Regions from separate parts of the Homo sapiens genome. Here regions 1 and 2 are each linked to region 3. Evidence: fine-mapped QTL for protein levels in blood plasma. A gene starts in region 3. Each other region holds a variant in brackets. All regions are shown on one strand. Distances are from middle to middle. Region 1 has its middle 66 kb from the start of EPDR1. Region 2 overlaps EPDR1 (ependymin related 1). Region 3 holds the start of SFRP4 (secreted frizzled related protein 4).

Region 1 (2,764 bases), 70 kb after region 3:
GAATTGAAAACTATGCTTGGAAGACACTAACAGAACTATCAAGTCAGTTGAAGGAAAATATTTGCAGCCAGGCATTTCTTTCCCTGAAATAATATCTATGCCTTTTTAGTAGATGGCCTGAGGTGGCAAGGTAAGAGCTTCAGTTATTGTAAGTGAAAACCTCAGGATATGGCTGGGCATGGTAGCACATGCCTGTACGCTGTACTCAGGATGCTGAGGCAGGAGGATCTCTTGAGGCCAGGAGTTTGAAGCTATAATGCTCTACGATCACTCCTGTGAATAACCATGGCACTCCAGCCTGGGCAGCATAGTGGAGACTTCCATCTTAAAAAAAAAAAAAGGAAAATGTAAAAAAGTTCCAGATATGCTTAGAAGCAGATTTTTCAAATCCCATGGGGATGGGCTCAAAGAACAATATGATCAATAACCAGCTGACAATGATTAAAGCATCATCTTTGGAAGATGATAAGCTAAAGGTAAAGAATGTAAATCTTATTGCCTAAAACTCTTTGCAGTCAGCCAACTTAATTGAGTGTCTTTGAGAAAATTATTGTCTCATCTATCATATTGGTGCAATGAAAATAATACCTACATTGTACACATGTGGAATTTAAATAAGAAAATATTTTATATATCTACATAGCTCCTGGATATAGTACAAGTTTAAAACATTGTAGTTTATTATCAGGTTCCTGAGAGATGGCACCAATGGCAAAACGGTCACCAAAGCTATACCTTTAGAATTAGAGGATAATCCCAATTTTGTGGACAACATGTGGGTCTAAGCACCGTAGCATCTGTCAGCCTGTCCTGTCTCCTTTTTTAAAGAGCCAAATAGGAATTCTGTTGTGATTGAAGGACTTTCTATCCATCCCTGCAATCCTAGATGCTTTGGGATGCCTGCATAGAAGTTGTGCACTTTTTTCAAACACTGATGGAATAAAACAGTGTAATTACCTCTCTTTTTTTCACACCTAGCATAGAAGACTGATTTCAGGCTTTTTGAGGGGATTGGGTGGTGGTCCTCATCTGAGGATGAGGCTACATAAGTCATGGAAGACCTCGCCAATCCAGGTAGGGTACAACTCTAGGCCCTGTGTGGCTGGTCAAGGAGTCAGTCACTGGCTCA[T/A]CTCTGGCCTCCCAGGAAGCTGGAGTTGAAAAGGATCTCAGGGTGATCAGATAGAGAACTGCAGAAGGGGAGGGTCAAGCCAGCTTCTTTCAGATTTATTACAGTCCCCTAAAGCATTAATGACCTTTTTGCCTAAAGCTAATACAGGGAAACTTTTAGTTCATTGACCTTCAAATAATTACAGCTGTTTGGAAAGCTTTTGGTCATAGAAACTGGCAGTACTTCCAAACATTTCAAAGATGTCTATCATCTTAATAGCACCTGTCCTTTAACCCTGCACACACACTCCAAAAAGGTTAACTAAAAAATACAACGATTAATTTTATATTCTGATGTTTTCTTATGAGCACAGCTGTGGCCACTTTAGTGTCCAGCAAAGCATTTCTTTGGCGAGTGATTTAGGGAGGGGTGGAAAGTGGAATGGAAAAAATCTCTGGAAAGTCTTTAACACTGGGGCGTATTTTCTCCCTGTTTCACTCCAAGGAATTCCCACTCATGGAATCTGGCCTATCATAAAGAACTTTTTCCTTTTGTACTTGATTCAACTTAGTAAATGATGTCAACCAGCTATGGTGAATGATGAGTGTTCCTCAAACCACAGAACAATAGACTTCATCGTTGAAGCTCTAAAAGAGCAGGAATCTGTCTGTTCCACTTCCCTCCTGCTGGGCACCATCTTCTAGCTCAGCTGGAGCCTCTTGTTCATAATTCCTCCCCTAGAGCAAGTCCTTTTTTGCTGAACTCTAGGACACCCGGCATGCATTCCTCTTCAACTGCCTTTGTTGGCCTGAATGCTGAAACAACATCACTGAACTAACATCTCCTTAAGAAGACATTTGTCATCAAAGAGGCAAATCCTCAATGAGGACAACCCTACCTTTAAAAAATCATGTCTAAACCAGCAAAATTTAAAAGATTCAGAGCTTTTTTTAAAAATCTTTTTAAAGGTAGGTTTCAAAAAATCAATTTGCCCCACTAAATTCATGGTAACTGGCACAGGAGATGGCATGAGAATGAGAAGTATTCCTTTTAGCTATACCCACAATGGCCTGTGTTCTTGTCCTCCAATCGTATCACAAATTGTCAAATGTTGGTGCACCACTGCATCCCATATTTCACACATCTGATTTTGTCTTAAGTAATTATAGTTCCCAAAGCTCACAACTCTCTTTTTCTCAACTATATTTCTCCTGGAGTTTGTCTTCACACAAAGGTCTCTTCCCAGTTTTCTTCTTCTAATAACAGTGCACTTATTTTTTTCTCTCTGCTAGGCATACTGTCACCACATCTGACTTTGTTCTTTACAGCCACTCAGTCATGGCCCTTACAGTTTTGCTTCACTCCATATATACCATTTCATTTCCCTTCCCACTGCCACTCCCTAGAACAGGCAGTTCTGGCTTTTCACACTAATGAGGAACCACAGATATGACTGTGCAAACAGAAACTGGAATGTGATCTTGTTCATCGAAGGGGAAACTTACAATTGTTCTGGGACCTTTAAAAATATTTTGTTGAAACATTAAAAACTCCTTTGTTGTAGGTTATAAATGCACAGGAAATTTTTTAAAAATAGTACAACTAATAATTATTTAGTATACTGTAATTTAAAACATCAGAAATATGAAGAAATAA
Region 2 (2,764 bases), 15 kb after region 3:
TTTTTTTTGGTGTATACAATTTGGGTAAAAATAGTCTTTTTGCTTAAATATGTTTATGGCATTTACAGCTCTCAAAGAGAAGTCTGAGGCCAGGTGCGGTGGCTCACGCTTGTAATCCCAGCACTTTGGGAGGCCGAGGCGGGTGGATCACCTGAGGTCAGGAGTTTGAGACCAGCCTGGCCACCATGGTGAAACCCCATCTCTACTAAAAATACAAAAATTAGCCAGGCATGGTGGCATGCGCCTGTAATCCCAGCTACCCAGGAGGCTGAGGCAGGAGAATTGCTGGAACCTGGGAGGCAGAGGCTGCAGTGACCTGAGATTGCGCCACTGCACTTCAGCCTGGGTGATAGAGCAAGACTCCATAAAAAAATAAATAAATAAAAAAAATAAAAAAAAGAGAAGTCTGACACCAAACTAAATTTGGTTTCGTTTCAATAATTTTTTTTCTGCCCATGTTTTTGTAGGTTGTTTCTATTATCCTTGAATTTTATTAACATCTCCAGGTAAGGTGTAGTTTTAGGGGAACTTTGTTTTTGTTTCACTTTGTTTTGTTTTTGTTTTTGTTTTTTGAGACAGAGTCTCACATTGTCACCCAGGCTGGAGTGAAGTGGCACAATCTCGGCTCACTGCAACCTCCACCTCCTGGGTTCAAGTGATTCTCCTGCCTTAGCCTCCCGAGTAGCTGGGACTACAGGTGCACACCACTGCACCCGCCTAATTTATTTATTTATTTATTTTTTGTAGTAGAGAAAGGGTTTCACTGTGTTAGCCAGGATGGTCTCGATCTCCTGACCTCGTGATCTGCCCACCTTGGCCTCCCAAAGTGCTGGGATTACACGCGTGAGCCACCGCGCCCGGTCGGGAACTTTCCTCTAGTATTTCTGGAGGTTTGATACTCTGCTTTTTTGTTGGTTCCTTACAGAATCTCTTTCTGCTTATCTGTTCTGGTTCTCTTACATTACATCTGTCTTCCAAATGTCTTCTTTGCTTTAGCCTTTTCATCACTTAATATGTTTTTTTCCCCTCTGAATTCTACAATAATACCCTCTAAGTCACTGCCTGTGAGGTGGTTTTTGTTGTTGTTGTTGTTTTTGCCATAGTCAATCTGCTTTACAAAGCCATGACTGCATTTTTAATTTCTAAATTTTTAAAATTTATTTACTCATTTATTTAGAGATGACATCTCACTATGTTGCCCAAGCTGGCCTCAAACTCCTGGGCTCAAGTGGCCTGCTTACCTCGGCCTCCCAAGTATCTGGGACCACAGGCCCTTGCTACTATTTTTTATTTTGATAATGATATTTTTCATCAGAAAGCTATCCTTGTGGTCACACATTATTCCTTTTCAATTGTAAACACAGTCTATCCCAAATCCCAGTGAAAATAAAAAATAAGATTTATATTTCAGAGTTTCATTAAATGTTAGCTGGAAGGGTTTGCGTGAGTTTATATTTCAACATGGTGGGAATTGATCTATTTCTGCTAAATGGCATCATGCTGACCCTGCACTGTCCTTCCCATCCTTCTTAGAGGACATCCCCTGCTATGTCGTTTTAGAAGCCACTGAGCACCATGGCAACCTGGATATCTCAGTACTAATGATGCTATTTCTTTTTGTGGTGGTGAAACAAAACTCAGCC[T/A]GCACTACTGTCTCATGAGAAATTTTTTATTATCTTTCATCAGATGAAAGAGTATTTGCCTACACATTGCCAATATTCATCCAGATATATTTTGGGAAAAAAAGCTCTTCAATTTCTCAAGCACTTTTTTCATCTTTTGAACTGGAATCCAAGTCATGGAGGCCCATCACCTTACAGCTTCTTAAATGGCAAACATAATTATTCTTTGATTTTGCTTTTCCTCAGGCTGCATTCTTAAGTAATTTAATTTTCCTTTTGTTATATGTGATTGGCAACAATGCGCACAATGAGTTTGTATCTAACACAATTTTGAAATAGTGTTTTTTCTTTTTTATGTCTCATAATCATTGCAGGGTGTAACTCAAACTTAGTATACGCCAGCATGGCAAGTGGCCGCGGCTCAATTCTTCCTCTTGAGAGTCAGATGGCCGGCATGCATTACTAATCTATTATAGTGCGTATTAAACAAATCCAAAGTTTGTTCAATTTTTTCCATAAAAGCCAAAGTCCTTTTGTAATCACAATATAATATTTGTCTACTCCCTTTTCTGTAATTTAATATATCTTGGATGGCTGAGCAGTTCTACATGGATGGGAAGAATCACTCCTTCCCCCTGTTGAGAGCGAGAAGGCACATGGTGTTTAAGAGTTAGAATGAGTCTGGTTGATCCCGTACTTAACTACGAAGTTATGCTGTGAGCCTCATATTTTCTCATCTGTTAAAAAAATAAAAATGCTAATAACATGTTCAACCAGCTGAATTTGCCAGTCTGTAACCTCTGCTTTGGATGTGTTCTTTTTTTCCTGACTACTCCAAATTGTGACAGAAAAACACTTGTCTCTTGACTGTTAAGGCAGTAGCTGCTCAGGTTCACCTATACCCAGGCCAAGCTCCGGTATTTGGGGTTCTAGGATTAGTCAAATATTTGGGCCCTGCTCATTCTGAGAGGGAAGGCTCTCATAGAGATTTTGTAATGAATTGAGTAGATGTTATCCATAAAGGAGTGGTTTTTATTCATTTCATTAAGGATATTTACAGCTATAAGTGTCAGAAAATCTGACTAGCAAATGCTAAAATATAAGAATATTCGTTGTTTACTCCAGAATTCTTGGGATACATG
Region 3 (2,764 bases):
GTATTGGCACCTGCTTGGTGAGATTATTTTGGGCATTAAATGAGTCAATAACGTGTAATGTGTTTAACACTTGCTCAGACACCTAGCAACACCTGTTTACTGCTATTATCATTTCTGTTATTACTATAAATGCAAACATCATCGAAGGCTCCCTTTGTAAGCAAAATCTTTTTTTTTTTCTTTATGGGGTGCAGTGCTCTCCGCTAGCTCCTAAAATTCCTATGGGAGAAACCAGACTTTTTCTGAAGAAAATGTTTCCCCCATTCTTTCCCACCTCCTACAAGCCTCAGACGCCCCTGGCAGCCTTAGGTGTGGCCGCCCAGTTCTCGATTGGCAGCCACAGCCCCGGGCGCCTCCTCGCCTCCCTCCATCCTTCCTACGGCCTCACCCTCCGGGAGGTCCGTGACGATGGCTTCAGGCGAGATGCACACGCCACGGTCATAGACAGGCAGCTCGTCGCAGGCCAGGCTTTCGGGCCAGCTGTGGTTGTACATCTTCATGAGGGGCTCGCAGTCGTCGCGCGCGCGTTGGCACACCGACTTGCACGGCTTGATAGGGTCGTGCAGGAACTCCAGGGTGCAAATGGGCGCGTACATGGCACAGAGGAAGAAGCGCAGCACGGCGCTGCAGTTCACGTCCACCAGCTCCTCGTACTGCTCGATGGCCAGGATGGCGTTCTCCTGCGTGCTGTGGTGCAGGTGGTTGGGCATCCGCGTGATGTTCCAGGGCATGTGCCGGCACATAGGGATGCGCACCGCCTCGCAGGGCGCGCCGCGCACGCCCAGCGCCAGGTGCAGCCACAGGCACAGCGCCACTAGGATGGAGAGGAACATGGCACTGCCCTCTCGCGCTGCGACCCCGGCAGACAGAAAGCGCCCTTCTCTTCCTGCCACCCTCATCTTTCGCTGTCCCTTCGCCGAGGAAGAAATCCTCTGGGGCGCAGGAGAGTTTCTTCCCCCAAACTCCAGTCGGCAGCAAAGCGGGGCCGCGGGGTCCGGCCGCGGAGCTCCGCCGTCTGGCACACAGGGCACGAGCAGCGCCAGCTCTCAGCCTTCGGGGCGCGAACCCGCCCGGGCAGCTCCAGTCCCGGACTCCGCAGCTCGGAGCGCAGCCAGCCACGGCCATTGCGGGACCCTATTTATCCCGACACCTCCCCTGACGTGGGCTCGGAACGCTCCCTTGGCAGCTGCAGCCGCGGCGCGGGCTCCCCCTCGGCCGCCCCACCCCCAGGCCCGTCGGTGCAGAAGCGGTGACATCACCCCCTCTGGGCCGCAGCCCAGGGCTGGAAGCCTGCTTTCCCCCTAAAGTCCCTCCTTTTTAGTCTGGCCAGTCTTTTTTCTTCGGACCAAGAAAAAGAACCTCTGGCAGTTGTTTTCGACACCGGATACAAGAGGGTGCGGGAGAGAATTTCAAGAGAGAGAAAGACACTCTTTGGCTGAAAACTGAACTTTGCTCCCTCTGCCTTAGAGTTTTTCCAAGTATAGAGTTGGGGGAAAATAGGAGCTTCTGCTGCCCTCTAATTCTGAAATATATTTGCTTTCTCCGGTAGGGGGCATGAGGAGCGCTGAGGACAGTTGGGACAATGTCCTGCAAGGCAGGCGAGAGTGCAGTGAATGTCAGAACAGGAGGGTCACGTTGTATAAATCACTCCCACTCCGCCCTTAGTTGTGTGGAGTGTGGTTTGTTGTTGTTGTTGCTAGTAGACAGTTTGGGCCGAAATTTTTCCAGTATAACACTTGGTTTGTTTCTGCTCCAGGAAGTTAACAGAACTGGGGGAAGGTGTGCTAGCATCTTCCAGCTTCAGAAATGTCTTCTAACATTTCCTCTTCCTTCTAACTCCCTGTTCCCCTCTGCAGCATTAGTGGAACCCAGGAGAAAACATTGGGCACCACAATCTGAAAGGTCTCCCCTGCTCTGATCCTTCATGCCAAAGGATTTCCACCTCAGCAGCCTAAAATCTTGATTTTTGATGTGCTCAGAGACTGTTGCTTGAGTTGAGTAAGAAGCTGTGTACTATGGGATGCAAGTATGTATGTTTTGCTTTCTCTTTTATCTTACTTGCATTAGGAAAAGGTAGTCCAATTGCTGGCTCAGCTATCTACAGAAAAGGGAGGATTTATTTATATGAGATTGATGTATATCAATCTTCAGGTGGTAAGACTTCTGGTATATGCTATTTATTAGGGCATCAGCAATATGGAAACATGTTCTCTGAATGTTAATCTTTAAAAACATAGTTTAACTTGAATTTAAGGCACATGGTTTTTCTCTCCAAAGCTTAAACCTACACAATTAGTTTAGTTTTGACTGAGGATTAAAACTAAAGACTAAGGATTAAAACAGCTGAGGAAACAACAAGCACAAGTGACATCTATTGGGAATTTACAATGGTCAAGGTATGAAGCTAAGAACTTTAAATGCATTATCTTATTTTTTAGGGAACATGAATTAAACATAGTAAGTGAAAAGGATAAATGAGACAAATACATTTCAGGATTCATCCAAAGAGTCTGGTTCTTATTTAGGGGAAGCCCAGGGTGTTCTTACACTGCCAAGCCACTCTAGAAAGGTAATCTAGTTCCTATAGAACCAGTCTCCACCTCCAAAGATGCCAAGCCAGGCTAGTAAAATATCACATGAGGAGGAAAGCCCAGATGACATCTCAAGCCATTTCTAGCAGTAAACTCCAATGAGTCTAAACCCTTCACTGGGTGAAAAAGATTTTCAGCTGGAGTTCCTACCTGGGGAGCAAGAGAAAGAGCTG

What was found. A credible set is the group of variants that fine-mapping cannot tell apart. PIP is the posterior inclusion probability: the model's chance that the variant is causal. The UK Biobank Pharma Proteomics Project read protein levels with antibody pairs (Olink). The fine-mapping took linkage between variants from a reference panel, not from the people measured, so its PIPs are less certain.
Region 1: its variant is the best candidate, but not a certain one, in a credible set for the plasma level of the SFRP4 protein (UK Biobank, PIP 0.67).
Region 2: its variant is the best candidate, but not a certain one, in a credible set for the plasma level of the SFRP4 protein (UK Biobank, PIP 0.51).

What each region holds. Positions count from the first base shown.
Region 1 is chr7:37,985,425-37,988,188 of GRCh38, forward strand. No RefSeq gene overlaps it. Among named protein-coding and RNA genes, the nearest start is that of EPDR1, 66 kb to the left of the region's middle. RefSeq lists an enhancer at 1,462-2,214 and a silencer at 2,430-2,630. The variant T/A (reference allele first, on the strand shown) is at 1,130.
Region 2 is chr7:37,931,145-37,933,908 of GRCh38, forward strand. The region is part of intron 1 of EPDR1 (ependymin related 1); the gene reads left to right. Among named protein-coding and RNA genes, the nearest start is that of EPDR1, 12 kb to the left of the region's middle. The variant T/A (reference allele first, on the strand shown) is at 1,644.
Region 3 is chr7:37,915,705-37,918,468 of GRCh38, forward strand. SFRP4 (secreted frizzled related protein 4) reads right to left here and starts at 1,113. Exons shown (of 6, transcript NM_003014.4): 1 at 389-1,113. The coding sequence starts at 833.